Linked DNA regions of Homo sapiens: region 2 is linked to region 1. The links come from fine-mapping of genetic effects on gene expression. Tissue or cell type: fibroblasts. Region 1 holds a variant in brackets; the other region holds the start of a gene. All regions are shown on one strand. Distances are from middle to middle. Region 1 has its middle 61 kb from the start of FMN2. Region 2 holds the start of FMN2 (formin 2).

The links.
Region 2: FMN2 starts here. The variant in region 1 is fine-mapped to the expression of FMN2 in fibroblasts (GTEx, PIP above 0.99).

The regions. Positions count from the first base shown.
Region 1 is chr1:240,028,395-240,032,786 of GRCh38, reverse strand. No RefSeq gene overlaps it. Among named protein-coding and RNA genes, the nearest start is that of FMN2, 61 kb to the left of the region's middle. The variant CG/G (reference allele first, on the strand shown) is at 1,601.
Region 2 is chr1:240,089,412-240,093,803 of GRCh38, reverse strand. It overlaps FMN2 (formin 2), which reads right to left and starts at 1,921. Exons shown (of 18, transcript NM_020066.5): 1 at 80-1,921. The coding sequence starts at 1,694.

The DNA of each region.
Region 1 (4,392 bases):
GTCTCTGTTCAGGATGATGACATGGTATGTGATAGCTCTAGTGAACCCCTGGGGAGCCCATCTATTACTCAATTTTTCTTGATAGCAATCAGTGTTTCTGGAAAACATAGATGACCTGTGATATTAGTAAATCCATGAATGATAACATGGAGAGAGAGACAAATAAAGATAATCAATCCCAGGATAAGGATATTAAGCAAGAACAAATTGCTCTTCTTTCATTGTGAGTGGAATTCAATACAATAAGCCTCCTACTAGGTAGCTGATATGCTGATATCTGTGCTCATTCTGAGAGTCCTTTCAAATATCTGTTCTCCGAAACTTTTCATCACCAACCTCCAATTTTCTTCTTTCTAGCCAAACCATTAATCAGTCTTCATAAATCTATTCAGACTCATCTCTGAGGCTATATGGATGAGGGGTGTTTTCAAAACTCTGCCCTCTGAAAGAGTTTTTCTTCTATATGTTTGTGGTGGTTTGAATGTTTTTTTCACCTCCAAAACTCACGTTGAAACTTAATCCCTAGTGCAACAGTGTTGGGAGGTGGGACCTAATGGGAGGTGTTTAGATCATGAGGACTCCATTTTAATGAATGAATTAATGCAGCTATAGAAAAAACTTATAGGAGTGGCTTCCCTCTCTTCTGTTCTTCGACAATGTGAAGACACAATATTCCTTCACTCTAGAGAGTAGCAAGGGAACACAATCTTGGAACCAGAGACCTAATCTACTGGCATCTTGATCGTGGACACCTCAGACTCCAGAACTGTGAGGGAATAAATTTTTGTCCTTTATAAATTACCCAGTTTCAGGTATTCTGTTATAATAGCACAAAACAAACTAAGATAATGCTCTATCAGAGAAAATGGAGCTTATGAAATTATAAAGTTATTGCAAACAGTTTTATTCAATTCAAGTCAATTAATCTTTATTGAGTTCCTACTGTATGCATGGAACTTCAGGCTGGTGCATGTATATTTTGTAGGATCTTACTGTATTATTTTCTCCTTAGTATTTTTTAGTAGGGAGCAATGATGAGGGCATAGGTAGTTTGAGAGAGTAGTGAGAGAGTATCAGGAATAGGCATAAGGGATTGTGAGTCACTCGTTCAAAGAACTTGTTTACGACATGAGAATTATCAAATGCCTGGTTTGACATATAACACTTTGACCTGATGATGGATTACCATGGAGTATTCCAAATTTCAAAGCTGTGTGGTATGATAGCACTAGTTTATAATGTGCTCTTTAAGTTGTATGCTCAATTATGGCTTTACAGTTAGATGTTTATTATTCACCAAGGCGTAGTAGAAAGCTAAGAGCCACTTAGTGAAAGGACAATAGCAGAAAAAGGCATACTTTTGCCTTAAACTATGATGCCTTCGCTGTGAATTTTTTTATTTATTTTATTATTATTATTATTATTATTTATCCAGGAATGCCATGGATTCCATTGAGTCTTCTGACCCATTACAGATTCTTTGAGCATGATTGGATATGCTAGATCATAAAGGTCAGGAAGCAAAATGACCAATACTATTTCCTGACTCATCTGGAAAAGATTCTTTTGCCCAGGGTCGTGCTTAAAGCTGGAAGCCTCT[CG/G]GAGACATGGGTAAATGATTCATGGCAGTGTACTCAAATGTAGCAAACACTGCCTCCAAAAGCAGAAGGGACTCACTTGGTGTTAGAACTTGCTGTTAGGAGTAGCGGAAGAAATGGAGGGATATCCCGGCAGGTGCCAGGCCACTGGACTCCCTGAAATTTTTCTGAAATATTGTTCCCTGTATTTTCATGGTATTTATCTCCCTCTGGCATATATATATATATATATATGTATATATATATATATATTTTTTTTTTTTTTTTTTTTTTTTTTGAGATAGAGTCTCGCTGTATCGCTTAGGCTGGAGTGCAGTAGAGTGATCTCTGCTCACTGCGACCTCCTTCCCCCTGGGCTCAATCGATTCTTGTGCCTCAGCCTCACTAGTACCTGGGACTACAGACGTGCACCACCACACCCGGCTAATTTTTGTATTTTCTGTAGAGACGGGGTTTCTCCATGTTGGCCAGCCTCGTCTCCATCTCCTGGCCTCAAGTGCTCGGCCCGCCTTGAACTCCCAAAGTGCTGGGATTAGAGGTGTGAGCCACGGTGCCCAACCTGTATTTCAATGATATTTAAAGTAGTTGCTTCTTGCTTTTCAAACCCCGTTTGTATATTACCGGCAATGAAGTAGGAATGCTAATATGGTTCTTGTTTGAAAGTCGGCTCACTCATGTAAGGAAGGAATTGTAGCTTCAATGAAAAGATAAATAATTTCATCAGATACGTGTGGTATGTGTGGGAGCCGGTTTTGAATACACAGAGAAGTTTAGGGGGTGTTTGAAATGCTGAGGTTCTTGGAGTCCTTTGCATATTCCAGTAAGTTCACATTCTTGGAATTATTTTCCTTTTTTTTTTTTTTTAATCCAGATCATATGTTTAACCTAAGTTACCAGGAGGATCTATAAATTCAATTAGGGGCCACCTGGATCTAAATTTGAATTCAATTTTTAATTACCCTGGGGCATAGGAGATACTGTTAGGACCATGATAGAAAAATGCTAAACTTTTGTCTGTCTCAAGAAGAGAATTTAAGGATTTGAGCTCGCTGTTCCCTTTGCTTACACTTATTTAGACAAACTCTAGGCCTTGACTTTTTACCCGTCTTCCTGTTCTTTGGAAAATTCACCATGACACTCTAAAACATTGTCTTTAAAGAGCATACTATTTTAAGTGCCAAAAAATCTCTAATTTGATTTGCTATTTTGCCACCTTGTGTACTGTAAATCTGCAGGGTCTCATGCCTGGTTTTTACTGCCTTCAACCTCCAATTACTTAGATAATAAGTCTCAGAATCCCCACATTCTCCTGAGATGCTATTGCCAACAATCCAGGCCTTATTCACACTTTCTGTATGACTTAAACTCCTCAATTGAAAACAACAAAAAATGACTTTAGATAACTTAGGTGTAAATAAACTTGTCGGAAAGTTACTCTTAGCTTACAAAATTGACAGTGAGGTTGAAGAACCAAGCTTTATAAAAGGGACAAGCAAAAAAGGAAGCTTTAGGCATTAGAACCATCTGGCTATTCCTTCTATGCTATAACGCATAGCCATAGCCACACATTGTGACCATCTGTGGACTCAGCCACCAGAAATCTAATCTAACAACAAACAGCTACTTGGAAGGCTGAGGTAGGAGGGTCACCCAGGCCTCAGGAGAGTGAGGTTGCAGTGAGCCGTGATTGTGCCTTTGCACTCCAGCCTGGAAAACAGAGTGAGACTCAGTCTCAAAAAAAATAAATACATAAAGTTCATGGCTCTTGAACAGCTTTTGCTGATTAGAACCATTGAACTAAAAGTGCAGTATTTAGTATTGTAACTCAGGCAGGTGCTAATATAAGTGGAAAATTTTCCTTACTAAATCACAAAAGGGAAATTTCCTGCTGTTTGCTAACTCTTGGGTTATTTTCTGTTTTAGAAGTTTGGATGATACTGGCAGTGTATTTGGGATATTAAGACTCAAAGGAGCAGGTCTGTGGAATAGCCCAGTTTCAGGATGGCTCCCCTTGTCTCTCTGCTCATCTTGTTCCACGTCAAACAATGAGTGTAAGAGTGGGAGAATCATTCATTGTAGAAAATAGCATGTTAAAAAATATTCATTGTAAATACATAAACATTGTGGTGGTATTTTGGACCATTTGATAGAATAGAAAAATAACTGCATTATGCAAAAATTATTTTTGTAATGAAAATTGTTGAAATAGAATTGATATTTCAAATATAATTTCTTCAAAAGGAATACTTTATATGAAATTTAAAACAGAACTCTAGAAGGGTAAAATATTTGTGAATTATCTATTTTGCCAAAGTGCTTGAATTTTTATTGCTTTTATTATTTATTTTGCTTCAGTTTCTTGCCATTCTCCGAGAGAATTCCAATGACTGGTCATTTTTAGATAGAAGTGGGTTTTAGCTTGTAAGGGCTGGTACACTGATTTTTTTTTGATTGAATAATTAATATACTTGTGGAAATCTCTGCTTAGTTTAGGTAAAACTCTGGTTTTCTTAAAAATTATAAAAGATTTGTAAAACCTAGAGATTCAAGTCATCTGAGCTTTTTTCAATGTTTAAATACAGAATTTAGATGTATTTAATTCCCATGGCCAAAGGGTAGAGTTAGAAAGTGCAATACCTTTATAATTTTTAATATTTACAGTCTATTACTTATATATTAATTACTAATTGATATTAACCACATGCTTTTTAAATATGAAGATAATATTGTGAGACTAATTTTTGTTTATTGTGAATCCTAAATACTGTATCAAGGAATTTTCAGATTTTAAAAA
Region 2 (4,392 bases), 61 kb before region 1:
CAGGGAGGGCGGGTGGCAGGGGAAGGCCCTGACTGACAGGCGACTTGAGACCCGGAGGCCAGCAGCAGGGCGCGCTCACCTGTGAACACGTTCTGGAAGCCATCCGCAGCCGCGGGGGCCCCAGACGCCTTGGCGGCCAGTGCTGGGGACACCCCACCGCCGCTGTCACTCGCCACCCCGCGCTCCAGCAGGTGCGCGGAGCCTCCCACCCGGGGCGTGCGGGCGCCTAGCTCCTCCGTCCAGTCAGCCGAGCGGCTCAGGCCGGCCGCAAGGCCGCCGTCGGCCCGGTGCTTCTTGGCCGGGGCGGCTACGGAGGCCAGGGCAGTTCTGGACCCTCGGCTCAGGGAGGGTTCCGGCCGCCTCTTGATCCTGGGGCTCTGATTAGGGGACTGAGACGGGGAGTGATTGGGCGAGCTGAGCTGCCGGGTGGTGGTCTTGATGTAGCAGGGGGTGATGAGCGGGTAGGGCTTGAAACAGCGCTGGCTAGGCGCGGGGCTGCCGGGCAGGGAAGCGGCCGCGGGGGCGTCAGGTCCTTGCGCCTCCTCCTCCGGCTCTTCCCCCAGCCTCTGCGGGGCGTCCTCTCCCACCTCCGGGGCCCACTCCTCCCCCGGAGAGCCCCGGGGCGCATCCTCAAAAGCATCCTCCTCACCCTCCTCATCCGTGTCCCCAGCCCCTCGCACGGGGGCTCCGGCCGCTTCCTCCCCCGGCCCGGCCTCGGGAAATGGGAAAGCCGTGGAGGAGGGCGAGTCTTTGGCCGCGGGTTGCGCTGCCGGGAGACTGGGCGCCTCGGAGACCGGGAGGCCGCCGGGGGACGGCGGTTGCTGGGGCTCCCGGGGCTCGGCGGCCAGGCTCTCGGGCAGGTCGGAGAGCGCGGACAGCGCCTGCTCGGTGTCCGGACTGCCCGGGGCCTCCCCAGCCCCGCCGCTCGGCCCCAGCAGGAACCGGTCCAGGCCCAGGAAGGCCCCGGGCTGAGGGGAGACGGCAGTGGGGGGCGCTGCAGGCTCCTCGGCGCCCTGGAGCTGCTGCTGCTGCTGCTGTTGCTGGAGCTGGAGCTGGAGCTGCTGCTGCTGCTGCTGCTGCAGGCGGATCGCCTGCTGGATGTCTGAAAGCAAATCCTCTTGCTCCGTAGCCGAATGGAAGCTATAGATGTCCGTGTCCGAGCCCGAGCTGGTCCTTTGTCCATCCTGCGCCCCTGCTGCAGTTTCCACATCCTCGGCGATCGGCCGGCCCCCGACCCTAGCCTCGGCAGGCCCAGGACCCCCTGGACCGGTCACCTCAAAAGGGTCCGCACACTCGGTATCCGACAGGCCGGCCTCGTCCGCCGAGAGGCTGAGGTCTGGAGTCTTGGTGAGCAGGGAGTGAGCGCTGTCCAGCTCCCCGGTCTGCAGGGCCTGGGAATCCAGTACATCTTCGCGGGAGCCGCCGGCGCCTTTCCCCTTGGACAGATTCTTCCTGATCCGCAGGTTGGAAAACACCGAGGCTCTGGAGTCGGACTTGCTCTTCTTCTTGCCCGACTCCCCGCCGCCGCCGCCGCCCCCTCCCCCCTTGCCGTGCTTGCCTAGCGCCTTCTTGCCCCCGCTCCCCTTCTTTGTGGCTTCCACATCCCTGGGCCCCAGCGCATCCTCGGCGCCACCGCCGCCTTCGTGCAAAGCATCACCTGCGCTCCTCTTCAGCTTCCCATCCTGGTTCCCCATGGTGCAATCCCGCTGCTGCGCCGCCGCGCCGCGGGCACTCAGGCCATCCCGGCCCTCCTCGGCCCCAGGTCCGGGCCTAGGGAGTCTCCCGGGAGAGTCAGGCGGCGGCGGGGGGAGCCGCTGGGAGGGGAGGCCGACGCGCGCCCGGCTGGCCCCGCTCGCATCTGCCGCCGCTTTGCATAATGCGCGGCGGCTCCCGTGGCTGCCGTCGCTGCGGCTGCGGCTGCGGCTAGGGGCCGGCGGGGCGCGAACATGCTCAGTGCAGAGCGCGGCGCCCACCAATGGCTGCGCAGAACGCAGCTCGGGCCTGGCTCCCCGCCCGCCGCCGCCGCCCCCTCTGCCCCCGCGCGGCTCCTCGCTGAACCTGGGCGCGAAAAACGTTTCCTCTATCTCGGGGACTTTAATCTCCACCGTGCGAATCGAATGCATTGTCCCCGACCGAAGAGATCGTCAGCTGGAAGATGCACTCTGATCTTCAAAGCTGCTGGACCTGCCAAGAGAAAAGTTAAATAAAAAAGAAGAAATTTTTACACGGAGAAAAACTGAAGCCCAATTCCAGTTTAGAGGTGCCATCGGGTCACAGCCACATACACAACCCCCTGTCTGCCTCTGCATGGCTGTTCAATAAATATTTGTTGAATGAATGGATTGTTCTGTTTCTTGAATAATTGATCATCTAATTGAACACTGTTAATGTGCTTGAGCATATGGTTTAGGAGAGGTTACTACACATGGTGCTGCTTTTATGTTTCACACACAGACCCTGCTTCTCCAGGAGAGGACATTAGCTGTCATTTATAAAATTGGTTTGTGATTTTTTTGTTGTTGTTGACAGAAGGAGAGGTAGGAGAAGTAGAAAATACTGAGATTAGTGTTGATTAAAATGCTAGTCTCCAAATTCTATGTGTTTACCATATAAATTAAACAGCATTTGTATTCAAAAAGGGTGCATATACGATAACTCCCAGGAGGTCAAACTCATCAATATTAAACATGTCACTATTGTGGCTGCCTATAAAAAGGAAAAAGACAGAAAGGAAACACCCTTGGCACAAACACACAAAATCAGATGTTATGCTATAAACTACCACTTTCCCAAGCAAACCCTTCCAGGCAGACTTCGTCCTGTAAAAGTTTCTTAACGTTCTGGCCACAATATGGGGATAAACATTTTTCCTCATTGAATATTTTGTCATTGTTTTCATTATTTATTAAATTTAGTTACCTATTTTTTAAGAATAGTTTTTTTAAAAAAATATGGATATCTAAAGCTTTAAGCAGTAAACTGAGATTAAAGTGGCATTAATAAGTTTTACAAGTATTTAAGTAAAAGTCATTGATAACCACTTTGAAAATATGGAATAGACATCCAACTTATTAATATTTTCAAAATAACCCAGAGGAGGGAGAAAAGCTATATATTATACTGTGCAACTTAAATGTAGCAAGCAAATGTGTAGTCTTCCTTTGCATATTATGAACCAGCCTTTAAAATTCTTTTTTAAAAAAGGTTGGTCTTGTAAGTCTTTGGTTACTAACCTTTTTCAAACTATGTTTTTAAAAATAAATGTAATTTAAGGGCAGTTAGCCAGTTATCCTTAGGTGGCCCTTTCGAGTAAATGCTTTAGAGAAATCAACTTTAATAACTTTGCCAGGGTTATATCCCAGTCTCCAAGCAATTCCGGAGTACATGAAAAGCCTTTGTTTCACCTCTTTCACAAGACTGCTCTCTCCTTTTTTCTAGAATCTAGGCTCCTCAGAGGGCACAATTTGCCTGCAGCTATTAGAATTTTCTGCTTCTTTGAGTGCTGAGGTACTTTGAATCTTGATTTTTGCTCTTTCTTTAGCAGAACGTCTTTGATTCTGAACTACTGATTTCCTTATTGTTTTCTTCTGTGCTATATTCTAGACGTTCAGAAGACAAAAGAAGGGAAAGAAGGAGGGAGGGAAAGAATTGATGATTTTTTTTCACAGTGACAGTTGTGCAGCAGGTCACAGCTGACAAATCTCTATTGCATGCAAAGGCTCATTTGAAATTCACAAGTGTGGGTATCAAATACACATAGGTGCTCTTAACTCAAGGATAATTGAAGCATGAGCTCAGGCTCAGAGAGGCTAAGAGATTTGTCCAAGATCACATAGCAGCAGAAAGAATACTGGAACCTGCAAATTTAGACCACAATTTTTTTATAACATAAAACACTGCATAGTTTACTCTTGGGGGACCGGTAAGGATATCATAAAGGCAAACTACAAAGCTTTGCCAAAGGGTTCTTGTTATTTAATAGCTATTTAGTATTCCTAAGGATGCCTGAAACATGGCCTAACCTTAATTCCATTTGATCAGGTAAGAATATCATATCTGTGGTTGCAAAACTAGATTTAACAGATAATTAGAGATATTACCTCACGCCTGGCCACATCCTGGTAGCAAGACACAGACGAGAAACAGCAAAAGTGACCAGCCTCTATATTGATGTATCTAGAGTAATTCTAGTGTAATTATCAATAAAAGTCTTCAGTGTTAGCATTCCAAAATGGTCACAAAAACTATTTTTATAAAATAAAGTACCACCCATTTTCCCACAAAGGAAATTGGATATGGGCTTTAAAAATTCAATTAGTAAAAGTAGGTTAGAAAACTCTAAACAAATATTGAACTCTAGCTGAGAATATGTATGCTGATGTAGTTGGCTTA